Linked DNA regions of Homo sapiens. The protein of the gene in region 1 interacts with the protein of each later gene in a pairwise test. Each region holds a gene or a part of one and is shown in the gene's direction. Other genes may lie near its edges. The genes, in order: GP2 and GLP1R.

Region 1 (4,594 bases):
CGTGAAAAGAAAAATGGGACCTAACCAGCATTCTTAGAGACAGGATCTTGTAGCAACAGAGCAGAAATCTCCAGGTAGAAACAGGAGAATCAAGAAAATATGAACATGCGGAGTCAAGGAAATGCAAGGTACCCGGAACAAGCAGTAGGCAAATCCAATCACAAAGGAGCAGAAACAAACTACCCAGTGGATTTGGCTATAAAGTTGTAGCTACATGGTTCAGATTGGAATGGAGAAGCCAGAAGAGGGATGGAGGAACTGACTTTGAAAAGGAGGAACATCGCCTTATCAGAAGTTGGAGGGGGAAGGGGTGGAGGATGGAGACCAGTATTTATATGTTTACAGGGGAAGGAGCAAGGTCAGGTGTTGTGGCCTAAATTGTTTTTGAAGTAGGGTACCAGATATCTGCTGAGAAAGGTGGTGTGAGTGGGTGATAATAGCTGCAGAGACCATTTAAGAGGAATGGGAAGGTTAAGAGTGGCCACTGGGGAGACTGGGATGGGCACCTGGCCAGACTGAATGGATCAGTAGGTGATTTAGTGGGCCCAGTTGTCACAAGTTCCACATTTTAGAGACTATTTATTCTCCAGTTGCTCTGGGAGTAGAGAAGGTGGCTTGTAGCACCTTTTCTTTTTCCAGGTTGAGGTTTTGTAGAAGGTGTTACCAATGCCAAGACCCTCCTGCTCCCTTGACTCCAGTTGCCTTGGCTCCTTAAGGAGTCCCAGAGTGACAGAGAAGAAGCAGTGGCCATTTTTTCTGCAAAAGCTTTGGCTCTTTTATGAAGTCCATGATTTCTACCATGTCATGAAAGCCAGGTCCAAGCCTGGAGTTAATAAGTCCAAGATCCTCTACAGCCTCTTCTCAGTCTCATGCCTTCCAATCTCTAGGGCAGCCTACATATCAAAAGGGATTTACAGGGGCTACTCTGGTGCTTCTTTTGTCCAAGAACCTTTGTCTGTCCTTTGCCATTCCAAAATCCATCATCACCAAATTAGCCATTCCAAAACTGCTCAGCATTAGAAATCCGGAGTTGGGTAGATTCTATGGACCAATAAATGGAATTTTTCGAAACATCCACACTCCCTTCTTTCCTTTCCTATGTGTCCTCTTAGTCTAACTGGCCCCAAGCTCAGTGGCCTTCAGACAGAAGCAGAAATGTTCCAAGATGATTAGCTAGGAACACAAGGTACAACTGAAAATCCATTGTGCAAACAAGTGCCTGTTTGATTTTCTCTTCACTTCCCTTTGGGTATTAAGCTTCCTTTCAATTCGTGTTTGGTTTCTGGTAATAAATATGGCACCAGTTTCATTGATTAATTATGAAGATTAAATGTGAGAAGTCAAGAACGCAAAGCAGTGCCCAGCATGTTCAGCATTCAGCACACAGCACTATTGTTTGTAGGAAGCATTCGCACAATGCTGAGACAGCTGGAAGGGTTGACATTGTGAGGGGAGGGCCCTTCTTTCACCATCCTTTGCGTAAATGGCTTATCTCACCTCCACTCAACAAGCCCAGTGTATGGCCTAGAACTCCCATCATACCTGTGCACCAATTGAGGAGAGACACATGGGTGGGAAATTGCAATAAAAAGACGGCCCACAGCAGGCTGCATTCCCATGGCTGGCCAGAGGAGGAACGCTTTGTGTTCTCATCGGAGGTAAGTCCTGCTTTAAGCCCCAGGAGGCTTCCTCCTAATCCTGGGAAATCTTGATCCACTGGACATGCTAGGATTCTTTGTTTCTGGAAATTTTTAGAACCCAGCAAGTAGTTTGGACCCTGGCCATTGTCAAGTGCTCCAGGTACCACTCTATGTCCAACTCAGTCATGCTTCCAGTCATCTGCGATGCTCCAGGCCTACGGACGCCACCCTCTTCCTTGTCCCAGATATTCCCACCAGGGAACTAGGTCTCTATTGGGATCTCATCTCTAAGAATCACCAATCCTGGGTGCTTCCCTATCCCTGCTGTCTCATAGCATACTCATGGTATCCCTGCCCGAAACCGATCTCTATTTTCCACTGAAGTCTTCCAGAGGTTGTAGGAAGTTATCCAAAGATTTGGCCATTTAGGGAAAGTATTTCCCAGAAAAGTAAATGCCATCCAAATGCTGGCAGGCTTTTTTGCAGCTCTTTCTTTCTGCCTCGCCACCGCCCCCAACCCCCATTGATTTATTTATTCATCCTTAATCCTCTACTGAGTACTCCTTGTGTGCCAGATTCTGTACTAGGAGCAAGGAACATGAGGCTCGGTTTGGCATGGTTCCACAGTCACAGAAATCTACATCCATAGAGGACATTTCAGGGGGCTCTTAGCAGCACCCAATGCATAAAACTAAGAAAGGGCAGCCATTACTTTTGTGTGCAGGTATTCACAGGTACCATATCCCTTTTTCTCTATCCAATCTCCAAAGAGCCTCTACTTCCACCTGAGCAGGGACCATCCTGAGACCTTTCTAGGACATTCTGCAGTACTAGCCAGCTCTAAGCTTGCCTTTGGTTTGCTTACTGTCAATTTTATCACCCATTATCTCGCTCTATCTGTCCATAAGTCACACCTACTTTGAAACAATGCAGCTCTTTATGAAGGAAGTCAACGGATCTGTTTCTAAGAACATAGACCTATGCCCTAATCTTATCTTGGTCTTTTCTTTCCCATAGCTGCATGGGAAGTCTGCATACAGCAAAGTGACCTGCATGCCTCACCTTATGGAAAGGATGGTGGGCTCTGGCCTCCTGTGGCTGGCCTTGGTCTCCTGCATTCTGACCCAGGCATCTGCAGTGCAGCGAGGTAAGTATTCTGCTCACCTGGCATCTCAGATGTCAAGGAAGACCTAGCAAGTGAGGATAGAAGTGCAGAGAAGGTGGCTCAGGTAAGGAAGAGGAATTGGCAGTTCTAAAGCAAAAACTCAGAGCTAGAAGTCAAGGGAAACATAATGAGAAACAATGGAAATCAAGTCACAATCTCTCAAAGAGCCTAATCAGAAATTCCTCTGAAAGGGCAGTGGGAGCCAGTTAACATAATTTCCCATGCCCATATCTTTGGGAGATTAGAGACCCCAGATTAAAGAAGATCAAGAAATACATAACTCAGTCACCTTGTGCTGGCAAGTGCCTTCTCCTTTTCCTGAAAGGGCTAGATTAAGTGATCTCTTTATGAAGTGGGCAATTCAGATACTTGCAGAAAGGAGTCTCAGGCTTAGAATTAGAGTGCAAATTTCAGCCCCTGGAGGAGGGTGGGAGAGGGTACTGAGCTCATTGGAGGCCTCCAGTGGAAAAATACAATCTAAGAATAACAAATGCAGTGATTCCTTGTCTTAAAATAAGTACATGCATGAGCAAAGTTTGAAAATCTTTTTTTCTGAAAGGCCCTTCTAATGTGTATTATAAGCATGTGCAAAGCTTGAAAATCTCTTTTTTTTAGAAAGCCCCTTTAATGTGTATTGTAAGCACATGATCCTGTGTGTGCACTTAGCTCCTTCTTCAGGCATCTACAGCATTCAACAAAATAGAACTAGAGAAGACAATTAGCTTGACCCTGGTGCTGTGCTTGGCATTTTACACATATTATCACATTTAATCCTCTAACAATCGTTTAAGGCTTTCTTTCCCCAAATGAGGTGTATATATTCCAAGATGGTTCTGGGGGTGCCTGGCAAACTCTTAACAAGTTTTTAATGGCTGTATGTTTATTTTTTATGCACATCTAAAAAATATAACTAGCACATGATATCTATGTTATCACAGATATTATTCTTTAAGATGAAACTAATTCTTAAAAGATAATCATTGAAAGAAACATTTTAAGTCAATAATAGGACAGGCAAACACATGTATGACAAAGGTCATGACCCAAAGCGTAGGAACGGATAAAGTTTGAGAACCACTGGTTCACAGGTGTGGTTTTGCCAATGAGTCTCAGGGGACTTAAGTCACCTGCCAAGGTCACCCAGCCAGCAGGTGTAGAATTGGATTTAAACTCAGCCTGACCAGCCTGTGGTCTTCCTCCTTCACTTCTCTGCCTCTTCATACATCACAGTTTCTAAAACTGTTTTTAAAAATGGTAGATCAACAATCAGAAATGGTCTTGTTAGATCAGTGGTTCTCAACTGGGGGCGATGCCCCCCAAGAAGACATTTGGCAATGCCTGGAGACCACTTTGGGGCATGCTGGTGGGATCTGGTAGGTAGAGGTCAAGGATACTCCTAAACATTCTATAATGCACAGGATGGCTCCTCCAGTGAAGAATGACCTAGCCAAAATGTCAATAGTGCCAAGGTTGGGAGTTCTTGCAATAGACTGTGCTACTGGTATGGAAAAATGTCTATGTTATATTAAGTAAAAAATGCAAGTGGAAAAAAAGATGTTGCACAGAATTAAACTTATTTTTATTTTTAAGAAAGCAATATATTTTAAACTTGCCTAAGAAGAAGGCTATATTACAAATTTATTGTTACTTCTGGGGATGAGATGGGCTTATGACAACTTTCATTTCTGCTTTATTAATTTTAATGATGTTTGAGGTTCTTTTTCAGTGAGCCTGTATTACATTTATAATGAGAAAAACAAATATTGGTCAAACAAGGCTGCTGTTTGCA
Region 2 (3,811 bases), on another chromosome or scaffold:
AGCTTCTAAAAAGAAGCTATTTTAATTTCAGCACACGTGGACATTTTTGTGATTTCAAAAAGCAAAATGTTGTTTTAAATTATGTATGGGTCCTACATTTTATACATGGGGCTCTTGGGTCATTTCAGCATCTGCAGCCTCTGAAGGACGAATATTTATAATTTTTAAGGCTGTTCAGGAAAAAACTAAAAAGAACGACAACCCCAAGACATAGCTGAAGGAAGTGCACAAAAACACTCAGAAGGAATGGTGGATTCTCAGTGGGATGGGTCTGTTTGGGTCTGTGTGCTGAAAAGCCATTTCGGTGACCTCACTGGAAGTGGAGGCTCAGCTCTCCCTACTCACAGGTGAGAGGGATCCCTCCCATTGCACGTGTGACTTCAGTGTTCTGGAACCTCCCTGACCCCTTCACCTCATGTCCTCAGGACTCTTCCTTTGGGTGGATAGAAGCTGGGTTGAATATTAGATTTGGTTGCTGTGTCAGAGGGGAGCACGGGGAGGGGGTGGGGGGTGCTGTGTTGAGTGCATCTGTAAGTGAGTGCGTTTTGGAGGAGGAATGCTAATGGCAGACATCCCAGCTCTTTGTAGCCCTGAACGCCACTACTCTCCCCGGCCCCCGCACACCTTGCGATATTCTACCATGGTCACTGATCTGAAGGACTCCAGATTCTAGCCTTAACTCTGCTTCCTGGGGGGGCTGTGCACCCTTGATTCAGTTCCTCTCCCACTCTGGCCTGTGTGTCTTCTTCTAGAATGGTTGAAAGTGCAAGAAGCCCTCAGGCAGGCTGACTAGGCGCCAGAAGGAGCTTAGAGTCCTGGGCCCTCAGAAAGTCTCTCTCCTAAGTGAGATCAGAGATCACAAATGAGACACACACGCTCCTTTCCTCCTTCACCCACCCACCTCCCCAAAAGCATCAATTTAGCAGACATTTGCTGGGTGCTCGTGACACATCAAGCTATGCACCCTGGGAGGAATGAAGATGTCAAACCATCCACCTGGGGCCCCTGGGTGGCAGTGACTTATTCTCACTCTCTTTCAGAGGTGGCTGATGCCTGGCAGAATTTGGGGCTTTGAGGTTTCATGGAGATTGAGAAACCAAGTGTGTTAGGGGGTGAGGGGGCAGGAGAGGGGCTGGCTGAACCCACAGGCCTCCCATATATGCCCTCCCCCCAGGGTGCCACTGTGTCCCTCTGGGAGACGGTGCAGAAATGGCGAGAATACCGACGCCAGTGCCAGCGCTCCCTGACTGAGGATCCACCTCCTGCCACAGGTGAGTCCATGTAGGCTCCCCACCTTTAGTGCTCCCCACCCAACCAACTTCTGGAGGACTTTGATGAACTCAATGTCCATGGCTGGGAGCCATTTGCCTCTATAGGATGCCACCCCTGCCCTCTGCCTTCATCTCATTGTCCAAGCTACTCCTTCACCTGGATACCTTCCTTTCTGCCGACCAAAATCTTCCTTTTCTTCAAAGTCCGCGGAAGCACTGCCTCCTCCAGAAAATCTTCCCCAGGACTTCTGCCATCATTTGGCCCTTACTCGTTTGCTGTAGTCTGCTTTGGGGTTGCTGTCTTATTTCTGTCTTAGCTGTCTTATCTGTGTGTCCTTCCCTGCACCGCCGGCCAGCCCCCCAGCTAGAGCCTCTCAGAGCAGGCACCCGGCCTTTCCATTTTTGTCCTCAGCACCTCCCAGCCTGTGCATGGACTGAGGGCTCCACAAACATATTTATAGGAATAAATGTTTCAGGGAGTTCACAAGGTGGTTTAAAGAGCACGGGATTGGAGCCCGCTGGGCCTAGGTTGAAATCCTGACTGTAATTATAACACGTGACCTAAAGAAGGTTATCTTAAGTGAGATCAGAAGGAAGGTAAGCTAACATTTCCCTCTAATCTGTGAAGTGCAATTTAAGAATAGGCCCATAGGGATTTTTCATTGAGCACGTACTATGTTCCATTATCTATGTAGCATATAGTCTTGATCCCACAAAACCCTATGGGGCTGGAAATACTCCTGTTTTACAGATCAGGAAACAGACATTAAGTTACTTGCTCAAGGTCCTGCCACTGATAAGTGGCAAGTGCCCCTGCTTGGCTCTTGCTGGGTGGGGAAAGTGCTTGGCATACAGTAAGCATTCAGCAGAGGTTAGTGGCATGCAGCCTCCGAGGAGGGGAGGGGTCTTGGGGAAGGGAGGGAAAGGGCCATGGCCAGTCACAAGCAGGGACTCAGAGACTGTTCTTTCTGCTCCCAGACTTGTTCTGCAACCGGACCTTCGATGAATACGCCTGCTGGCCAGATGGGGAGCCAGGCTCGTTCGTGAATGTCAGCTGCCCCTGGTACCTGCCCTGGGCCAGCAGTGGTGAGCCCCCTCCCCGACCTGGTACCTGCCCTGGGCCAGCAGTGGTGAACCCCCTCCCCGACCTGGTATCTGCCCTGGGCCAGCAGTGGTGAGCCCCCTCCCCGACCTGATACCTGCCCTGGGCCAGCAGTGGTGAGCCCCCTCCCTGACCTGGTACCTGCCCTGGGCCAGCAGTGGTGAGCCCCCTCCCTAACCTGGTACCTGCCGTGGGTCAGCAGTGGTGAGCCCCCTCCCTAACCTGGTACCTGCCGTGGGTCAGCAGTGGTGAGCCCCCTCCCTGACCTGGTACCTGCCCTGGGTCAGCAGTGGTGAGCTCCCTCCCCCACCGTCCCCTGTATCGAGGAGGCTGAGGTCAAGGCGCTGCTTCCTTTCCTCTGAGACACAGCCCTCCCCACCCAGAATGTCTTTAGGCCTCCTAGTGAGTGGTCCGCCTGCCTTTCCTGGGGTGAGGGGAGCAGTCAGTAGTGATAAGTTTCATGATGGCCTGAGGTACCACCTGGGTCTGGGCGTGAGGCCAGTGCTGGCCAGTGTGTGGGGAAGGGAAAGTAAGTGTCTGAAGAGAAATGCGACCCCTTCCAATTCAGTAGTCAGGAAAAGAGCTGGGTGGGGACAGACTCTTGCGGGGAGGGAAGCTACCCAGGGTGTCTGCTGTGTGTATACATGTATGTATGATATGTGTATGCAGGTGGCCCATACCTGGCAGTGACATTTAGCTACTTCCTCACTCTTTAGAGGTTCACTGGGAGAAGTGATCAGGGCATTGGTGGGGTGACGAACCCCACCAGACTCAGCCCTCCTCAGCTCACTCCTGCCTGCAAGGGGGACCTTGTACTGGGGAAGATGTGACTGGGTAGGTGGGAAGGTCATTTCATTGGGGGTACAGAGATTTGCAGAGGCTGCAAGAGGATCCCTGACTGGAGGGTTAGTTAATGTGCCCCGCTATCTATCCCAGCCTCCCTTGCTGAGCCCAGTTTCACCCAGGCACCGTGGAGGATAACAGGAGACAAGCACCCTCATGGCAAGGAGCTCCCAGTCTCCATAAGGGGAGAAAAGATATTTCCCTATCATCATCATCATCATCATCATCATCACCATCACCATCATCATCGTCATCATAGCCAGCATTTATTGAGTACCTACTGTGTGCCAAGTCCTGCCCTAAAAGCAGGGCTTTATAACTACCCTGTGGTTATACCTGCTGTACAGATGAGGAAACTGAAGCACAAAAAGTTTAAGTCACTTGTTCCAAATGATGTGGTCAATGGCAGAGCCAGGATTTGAATCCAATTCGTGCTCCTATCATCACACCTTGAAGGGGCTGGAGCCCAAGCAGCAACTGGCCCAGAAACAAGTGCGGGCATGAGGTTATGCTCTGGGGAAGCCAGGTGTCTTCCTGGAGGAGGTGGCCTGGTGGGGCCCAATGTAAGCTTCACCTTGGCACGTGGGACTGAAGT

The links.
Region 2: the proteins of GP2 (region 1) and GLP1R interact in a protein complementation assay, tested with the Homo sapiens proteins (one study listed by BioGRID).

What each region holds. Positions count from the first base shown.
Region 1 is NC_000016.10:20,324,531-20,329,124, reverse strand, and holds the start of GP2 (pancreatic secretory granule membrane major glycoprotein GP2 isoform 2 precursor), read left to right. Parts: upstream 1-1,611; 5' UTR 1,612-1,658; intron 1,659-2,657; 5' UTR 2,658-2,693; coding exon 2,694-2,787; intron 2,788-4,594. UniProt on the Homo sapiens protein: Functions as an intestinal M-cell transcytotic receptor specific for type-I-piliated bacteria that participates in the mucosal immune response toward these bacteria. At the apical membrane of M-cells it binds fimH, a protein of the bacteria type I pilus tip.
Region 2 is NC_000006.12:39,055,223-39,059,033, forward strand, and holds part of GLP1R (glucagon-like peptide 1 receptor precursor), read left to right. Parts: intron 1-1,174; coding exon 1,175-1,271; intron 1,272-2,249; coding exon 2,250-2,357; intron 2,358-3,811.